Linked DNA regions of Homo sapiens: regions 2 and 3 are each linked to region 1. Evidence: fine-mapped expression QTL. A gene starts in region 1. Each other region holds a variant in brackets. All regions are shown on one strand. Distances are from middle to middle. Region 1 holds the start of TMF1 (TATA element modulatory factor 1). Region 2 overlaps UBA3 (ubiquitin like modifier activating enzyme 3). Region 3 overlaps TMF1 (TATA element modulatory factor 1).

Region 1 (2,764 bases):
TACATGACTAAATTGTTAGTTTTAACATGCAAGTTTTTACTGTAGTTAGATAAAATTATTGGAAGATGATTATAACTTCTTAAGGGGTTCAATCTGATTTTTTAAAAGAAAAATAATTCTTTTTTGCAGAGTTCCTTGCAGTGGGGTAAAATATTCAAATATGGGAGGCAGGCATATAAGGTAAATAATCACAGCAGGGAGGGTGTAATAGGATGAGTGATAGGGGTCTGTGGCAAACTGGAGTGAGTGAAAATTATTTGGTGACCACTCTGGCTGACTATTCCCATGCTTGGTATTCATATTTTTCAAAAGCAGCTGGAAATCTAGATTTTTGAATGAAATCTGGCTTTTAGTTAGGATTTTGTCTTTAACTTGGGCCCAAACCAAATATAGCTGCAGACTGGATTAGGAAGGCCACCAATTTAAGGTATTTTCCCATGTCCAAATGTTCGAAGAGAATGCACACAGAAAAGGTTATGTTTTAAGTAATATGCACAGTGCACATTGTTAGGATAACAGCTTTAGTGCTTCCTAGGTGTCTTAGTCCATTTGGACTGCTGTAACAAATTGCCATAAACTGGGTGGCTTATAAGCAGTAGCAATTTGTTTCTTAACAGTTCTAGAGGCTGAGAAGTCCAAGATAAGGAGCCGGCAGATTTGGTGTCTGGTGAGGGCTGCTATTCTGGCTTAGAGTTGGTGCCTTCTTGCCGTGAGCTCCCTTGGGCCTCTCTTATAAGGGCACTAACCCCATTTATGAGGGCTCCATCATCATCTAATCATCTCCTAAAGGCTCCCCTTAATACTGTCCCATTGGAGATTAGGTTTCAACATAGGAATTTGTGCAGGGGACACCGACAGACCACAGTATTAGGGGTATTTTGACTGCAGCAATGAGTTTACTACTATTTTGAGAGAGAGGTTGTGCTTTATGCACCATGTGTTCCACGAGTTGGACACAGTGTTCATACGTGATCCTGTCTTTTAGGCAAGCCCAAACAAGTGTTTCTCCTTACAATACCAAGTTAATACAGAGCTTATTAAATATTTGAGACAAAGGGCTAAGAGAAGTGTGAGGCCCAATTTCCCTTTGCAATTATTGCTGGCAAGGTGCAAGCTTTTAGCACGTGAACTATTTTCCTGGAAAGCACACACACGAAAACTTGAATATTCCTTCCGGGGAAATCGACCTCTATCGGTAGCCATAGCTTCCCCTTCGCTAAGAACTGCTGTAAGCACGAAATCGACATCAATAGAAACCCTTCCGCGTTCCTCGGTAACTAACGGCAACCCTGCGCTCCCGGATGTGACGTCAACGTTCTTCTGTTCTTCCGTCTGTCGACCGAACTCTGGGCTCGTAGATTTGGTTGCTGTGTACGTGGAAGAAGCAAGCGCATGCGCACATGGGCCCCCTTCGTCTCAGCTGTGCGGGAACGGCCGAGGGTAACATCCCGGGCTCGCGGGAGGCTGTCGGGGTAATGGCCACACGCTGACAGAACCAGCCGAGTGGAAAAGGGGAGCGAAGCCGTTCCTCTGCACCCTTCCCCAGGCCTGAGGCCTTCCCGCTTGGTGCTGCCGCCGCCACTGCCGGCTGAGGAGGGGCGATGAGTTGGTTCAACGCCTCCCAGCTCTCCAGCTTCGCTAAGCAGGCCCTGTCCCAGGCCCAGAAGTCTATTGACAGGGTTCTGGACATCCAGGAAGAGGAGCCGAGCATCTGGGCCGAGACCATTCCGTATGGAGAGCCGGGTAAGAGAGAGAGGAGCGGGGTTCCTGGCTCCCGGAGGCTGCTGTTCTCTTGATGCAGGCAGGTTAAGTGGTGTAGAGAGGGGTCCTTCCTTGCTGAGAGAGTTTTCAGGAAGTAATTTCTCCCCGGCCCGTTCCCTAATGCTGCTTCAGCCTCCAAGTCGGTCTTTGCTGTTTTCCTGAGGGAAAACCCAGATCCAGGTTCCCCCTTGTCTTTCTTTGGTCCTGGGTGCGAGGCTTGTGGACTTGGATGACAGGGGACTTGGTTGGTTGGTCTTGCCCTCAAGCTCTCCCTCGACGCAGCTTCCAAGCACAACCTTCCCGAACCTGAACCTCGAATTGCTTCGCGTCTCGGGCACTGTTGGGATCCAAGGTCTGAAGTACGTAAATCATCAGGGAAGGGAAGAACAATCGCTAACAGTCAGTGAACATTTCGCGCTTGGTAGCGCGTAATGTGGTTTTATGTTGTTGTTGAGACGGAGTCTCACTCCGTCGCCCAGGCTGGAGTGCAGTGGCGCGATCTCGGCTCACTGCAACCTCCGCCTCCCAGGTTCTAGCGATTCTCCTTCCCCAGCCTCCCTAGTAGCTGGGATTACAGGCGCCCACCACCACGCCCGGCAACTTTTTGTATTTTTAGTAGGGACGGGGTTTCACTATGTTGGCCAGGCTGGTGGAACTCCTGACTTAAGGCGATCCACCCACCTCGGCCTCCTAAAGTGCTGGGATTACAGGCACGAGCCTGTAATGTGCTTTTTTATGGCCTTCTCATCTTCAGAACAACTCCCAGAGAGAGCTTGGTTTATATCCGTGTTTTACATAAGAGGAAAATGAGGCCCAGAATGGCCAAGTAACTTGCTCTAGGTCACACGGCGGAGGAGGATTAGAATGTGCCGGAGGTATTAGCCGGAAAATGTGTGACCCAAGATTTCTGGATGGTATCACATTTTATTTCTGAATAGCCAAGTCTCTCTTTGCAGTTTCATTGAGCTTAATCTTTCAGGGATCTTCATTCAGTTGCTTTTGA
Region 2 (2,764 bases), 26 kb before region 1:
GGTATTGTACTAAGCACTCCAGTCATTTTGGCAGAATAATTGGCTCTTAAAAGATCTGGAAAGAGGTTGTTGACTTCAAACAGCCTATTTATCCCTTTTACTACACACCCTATTTCTTATCAGATGCTTAATTCTATGCTGGTGAGACAGATTTAATCGAAGTGTTTTCTAACCTGGCCAGCGCCACATAATTTACTCCCCTCCCTGCCTGGGCAGGGAAAAAATACTCTTGCATTGGTTATGGTGAGTTTGTAAATTTCCGTGCCGATTCCCAGTAGCAGTGCTTTGATCTTTATGTGTGTCCCTCAGTTGAATTTCAGCTGCAAGAGGACCGGGATGACAAACTTAATTTCACATTCTTTCCTGCCTTTTATTTCCCTCCCACTTTTACATGAAATCACAATTAAACATTGCTTACCATATCCCACGTACTGTACTGAGTCTTCTGTGTGATTATCTATATCCTCATGGCTGAAAGAAGTAGCTATGAACGGCCTGCAGATGAGGTTTATGTCTATTAAGTAATCTGCTCAAGGTCACAGTGCTGTTAATTGTGGAACCCAACACAACTCTGACATCAAAACGTATGGTTTTTATTGCTAGGCAATACTTCTTGGTCCCTTTTGTAAAAATTGGATATTACTAATATATTTGACGGTAGAAACTGTGGAGTTATAGGAAATTAGAAAATTAAAAATAATCACAACCAAACGTGAATCTTAACTAAGTATAAAATAGATGAATTTTGTAGAGGAGTCCCACCTTATTCTGTTGTATGTTCTAAAAGGTTTGTAGATGTCTATCTGTGGCGTAATTGTAATCTGAAACTTTGTGTTTAGTGGCAAGAAAAGCCGTCCCACAGCATTAAGAGATTCTTTAAAAAATTAAGACCTCTGCCAGGTTCGGTGGCTCATGCCTGTAATCCCAGCACTTTGGGAGGCCGAGGTGGACGGATTACTTGAGCTCAGGAGTTTCAGACCAGCCTGTGCAACATGGCGAAACCCGTCTCTACTAAAAATACAAAAATTGGCTGGGTATGGTGGCATGTACCTGTAGGCACAGCTACTTGGGAGGCTGAGGCAGGAGAATCACTTGAGCCCAGGAGGGCAAGGCTGCAGTGAGCTGCAGTCACACCACTGCACTCCAGCCTGGGCAACACAGTGAGACTCTGTCACAAAAAAAGAAAAAGAAAAAGAAAAAATAACCTTATTTCTGAGAAAAGTGTGTGAAAATTCCTCTCATCAAAGTGATTTTTAGATTACACCTTTGGAAAGGACACATAAATATTAAATTTGCATCAGACATATAAGCATCAGAATTCTGAAAGTGTGACTTTTTTTCTCTGTTGTATCTCATATTTCCTAATGCAAGTGTGATGAAACAACAGATTGAGGAAGCTTGCAGTGTTTTTTTTGTAAATACCAAATGTAGAGAAGTCAATTTCTCACATAATAGACCAATATCCTAAGTTGAACCTTGGATTGCTTTAGGAAACCAAAAACATGTAGACTGATTTATTTCATCCATTGGGTGAAATAAAAATAGAAACGTGCAGTTCTTAACTTTAAATGAATTGTATAATAGGCAAGAAAAAATTTCAAAGCATAAACATAATCACATTGAATATTTTCCTTTTTATTTGAGCAGGTCTGGTGTGGTTACCTTTTCATTTGGGGATACCATA[A/G]TAGTTGTAGGTGTGGTTTTTTTCATACTGATCTTTGCAGCTGAATTTACTGTGTTCTGTGCAGAATGGCTGTTGATGGTGGGTGTGGGGACACTGGAGACTGGGAAGGTCGCTGGAACCATGTAAAGAAGTTCCTCGAGCGATCTGGACCCTTCACACACCCTGATTTCGAACCGAGCACTGAAGTGAGAAACGTTTATTTTTAAATAACTGCTCTAATAGTTTTATGTTTCAAAACTAATAGAATGCTTCTTTTTTAATTTGCTCTTACAATGAAAATACTAATAAAATTGTTTTGTGAAACTAAATTTTTCTTAAAATATGAGATTGAATATTCACAACTGATTTTGTTTGAATATTTGAGTCTTAACATTTCTCATGTAATATAAGTTGAAAATTTTTGTGAGAAAAATCTAACTTCATGACCTCATGTAAAAATTTAAAATGCTTTCTGAAACATACTCCCCTTTTGTAGTGCTACTGTGAGAAATTAATTTTGATAGGAGTATAGGTGTGCTTACTTAAATTTTGAAATTTAGTTGGAATGAACATCTTAGCTTTGAGTATAATTAATTGCATGTTAAGAATTATGTAAGTACTAAATAATAGAGGCGTAGAATTTTGGACTGATAGTGTCTATCTTAAGGCAAGTGTTCACTTATATGTCACTTTTTTTTATTACAGGGTAGGGAAAAGTATAGCACATCTTTATGTGCTTTTGTATTTATAAAAAGATAGTATTTTGAAATAGAAATATTGTGTTACTCCCATAAATTAACGTGCAAACTCTTGGTTTGGCCCAGTGTCTCATGTGAATAACTTTCTCCTTTAATGCTGGGCAGAACTGAAAGCATTAAAAATAAAAAAAAAAAAAAGAAAAAGAATTGAAAGTATTAATTCTGTCTTTCTTTAGATAACACACCATATTTTCTTGTGCTTCTAAATTTTTTTTTTTGCCTGATAATTTAAGATTGTTACTTCTGTTAAATGATTGTATTTCTGCTGATAAGGAATTTTCTAAGAGTTTTATATGTTTTCGTGTTATCTCATGTTTTGTGAGTTTCGCTCACTTTATTCAAA
Region 3 (2,764 bases), 24 kb after region 1:
AAAACAGTAGATTTCAAGCCCAGCTAGAATCAGAGAAAAATAGGCTGTGTAAACTGGAGGATGAGAACAATAGGTGAGCATGGTTTCTGAGTGATATTTTTGGTAGTTCCGTGACATCCTAAAGCACTTTTTAAAAGTATGTTGTTGGGCCGGGCGCCGTGGCTCACGCCTGTAATCCCAGCACATTGGGAGGCCAAGGCGGGCGGATCACTTGAGGTCAGGAGGTGGAGACCAGCCTGGCCAACATGGCGAAACCTACTCTCTCCTAAAAATAAAATTAGCCAGGTGTGATGGTGTGCGCCTGTAATCCCAGCAGCTCGGAGGCTGAGGCATGAGAATCGCTTACACCCGGGAGGCGGAAGTTGCAGTGAGCCAAGATCCCACCACTGCACTCCAGCCTGGGTGACAGAGTGAGACTCGGTCTCAAAAAAAAAAAAATAAATTAAATAAGTAAATAAACAAAGTATGTCGTTGGCTTTTAGCTTCAGGGTACCAAGAACTAAATGTAATCACTTTTAGCATTTAAAGTTAGGGTTATTAGTAATAGGATATTATGGCCGGGTGCTGTGGCTCATGCCTGTTATCCAGCACTTTGGGAGGCTGAGGCAGGTGGATCACCTGAGGTTAGGAGTTCAAGACCAGCCTGGCCAACATGGTGAAACCCTGTGTCTACTAAAAATACAAAAATTAGCCAGGCATGGTGGCAGACGCCTGTAATTCCAGCTACTCGGGAGGCTGAGGCAGGAGAATTGCTTGAACCTGGGAGGCAGAGGTTGCAGTGAGATTGCACCATTGCACCCCAGCCCGGGCAGCAGAGCGAGACTCCGTCTCCAAAAAAAAAAAAATAAATAAAGTAATAGGATATTATAACAAGAAGATAGTACTGGGATTCATTGTCATGTAGATTGTTGAGATTGTGTGGCATGTTTTGTATTTATTTTTTTTTCCAGGGAAAGGATTTGTACCTTTAATCAGATTTTTTAAAGGGGCCTATAACACCACAAAATAGTTTTGAGACTACTCTTTGGAGTTACTTTTATATTACAAGGATTTTAGTAGTATAATTTAAGTCTTTTCTAAATAAATTTCTGGGTTCTTGGAAACCATGGGGTGTAAAATCCATCTATCTGAGATTATATTAAGGCAATGGTTAGTATTTTTTA[AC/C]CCTCTGTTCTTCCTTGGAAATTTTACTTTTTAAAAAAATGTCAAGTAAAAATGATTTCTAAAGTAAAATATCTGAACTTTTAGAAACATTTTCATAGAACTCCCTAATAAGCTTTGTGGAATCTGAGCATATTATAGGATGATGGTACTCAAAATTATTTTTATAAAGTCTCTTTTTAAATGAAATCTTAACCCAGAGCACCAATAAATAAAATGCACAGAAGTGGAGCTTTTTCACTTTTGGTTTGGTTTCTGAGTGAAACTCAGATGGGATCTGGAACACACTGTTGGAAAATCACTGATGTCAAGCTGGTAATAAAAATGATTTCTCAATATGTAGCTGGAGTTAATAAAGTACTGAGTTTTTAATAGTCTATACTAGCATCTTTTTCATTTTCTGTTTTTTTAAATTCTGCCTTGTTTAATAGGTACCAGGTTGAATTGGAAAACCTAAAAGATGAATATGTAAGAACACTTGAAGAGACGAGGAAAGAAAAGGTATTTCTCTTCGTGACCACTCAGCTCTTAGGGCATACATTAGAGAATGGTTGGGGATGGCAGCAAATTAATGAGATAACAAGATGAAATGGGTGATGCCACTGCTTTTGGAACTTGGTCTTTAGTAGGAAAACAAATATGAGTTTATACTTTATGCTTCTAACTTTGAGATTGACTTATCATGGCATGAATTACTATCACAGAAATTGTCTAACTTTATTTCTCTCTATTAGACATTGTTGAATAGTCAGTTAGAAATGGAAAGAATGAAAGTTGAACAAGAAAGGAAGAAAGCCATTTTTACTCAAGAAACAATAAAAGAAAAGGTATTGAATTTTGTTTTTGTTTGTTTGTGGTGTAACCATTTAGTAGATGCTGTGATTAATCATTGCTTTTTAATTTTAGCTATGCTTTATAACAAGCTTGTCCAACCTGTGGCCCTGGTTGGCATGTGGCCCAGGATGATTTTGAATGAAGCCCAACACAAATTTGCAAACTTTCTTAAATCATCATGAGATTTTTTTCATGATTTTTTTTTTTTTTTTTAGTTCATCAGCTATTGTTAGTATATTTTATGTGTGGCCCAAGACAATTCTTGTTCTTCAAATGAGGCCCAGGGAACCAAAAGATTGGACATCCCTGCTTTATAAGTATCATTTTTTTAATGTCTAAAATCAACATAGTGATGAATTCTAGTATTATAATCAGTGTCCTGCTCAGAGTGGACCCAAAGTAATTTTGAGTTTATCCAAAGAGATCTATGATTTCTAGGACTTGAAATATAAAACCTCTTGCCCTTTTTAAAAATGAATTTAATTGTCTGTCACTGAAACCAGTGCACATCATTTGGTCTATAGGCACTTAAGGAGTAAGTCTGGCTTGTTTTCTTTCTGGTTAATGAGGGTAATTTTTCTGAAATGAGTTTTCTGAGGCTGAGCATGGGGACTCACATCTGTAATCCCAGCACTTTGAGAGGCTGAGGTAGGTGGATCACTTGAGGCTAAGAGTTCAAGACCAGCCTGGCCAACATGGCAAAACCCCATCTCTACTAAAAATACAAAAATTAGCCGGGCATGGTGGCATGTGCCTGTAATCCCAGCTA

The links. PIP is the estimated chance that this variant, and not a neighbour inherited with it, causes the effect.
Region 2: its variant is the best candidate, but not a certain one, in a credible set for the expression of TMF1 in breast (GTEx, PIP 0.65).
Region 3: its variant is the best candidate, but not a certain one, in a credible set for the expression of TMF1 in pancreas (GTEx, PIP 0.50).

The regions. Positions count from the first base shown.
Region 1 is chr3:69,050,924-69,053,687 of GRCh38, reverse strand. TMF1 (TATA element modulatory factor 1) reads left to right here and starts at 1,355. Exons shown (of 17, transcript NM_007114.3): 1 at 1,355-1,743. The coding sequence starts at 1,602. RefSeq lists an enhancer at 1,294-1,763.
Region 2 is chr3:69,076,903-69,079,666 of GRCh38, reverse strand. It overlaps UBA3 (ubiquitin like modifier activating enzyme 3), which reads left to right. Exons shown (of 18, transcript NM_003968.4): 3 at 1,749-1,869. Among named protein-coding and RNA genes, the nearest start is that of UBA3, 2.1 kb to the left of the region's middle. The variant A/G (reference allele first, on the strand shown) is at 1,685.
Region 3 is chr3:69,027,124-69,029,887 of GRCh38, reverse strand. It overlaps TMF1 (TATA element modulatory factor 1), which reads left to right. Exons shown (of 17, transcript NM_007114.3): 11 at 1-73; 12 at 1,593-1,662; 13 at 1,896-1,988. Among named protein-coding and RNA genes, the nearest start is that of EOGT, 15 kb to the right of the region's middle. The variant AC/C (reference allele first, on the strand shown) is at 1,164.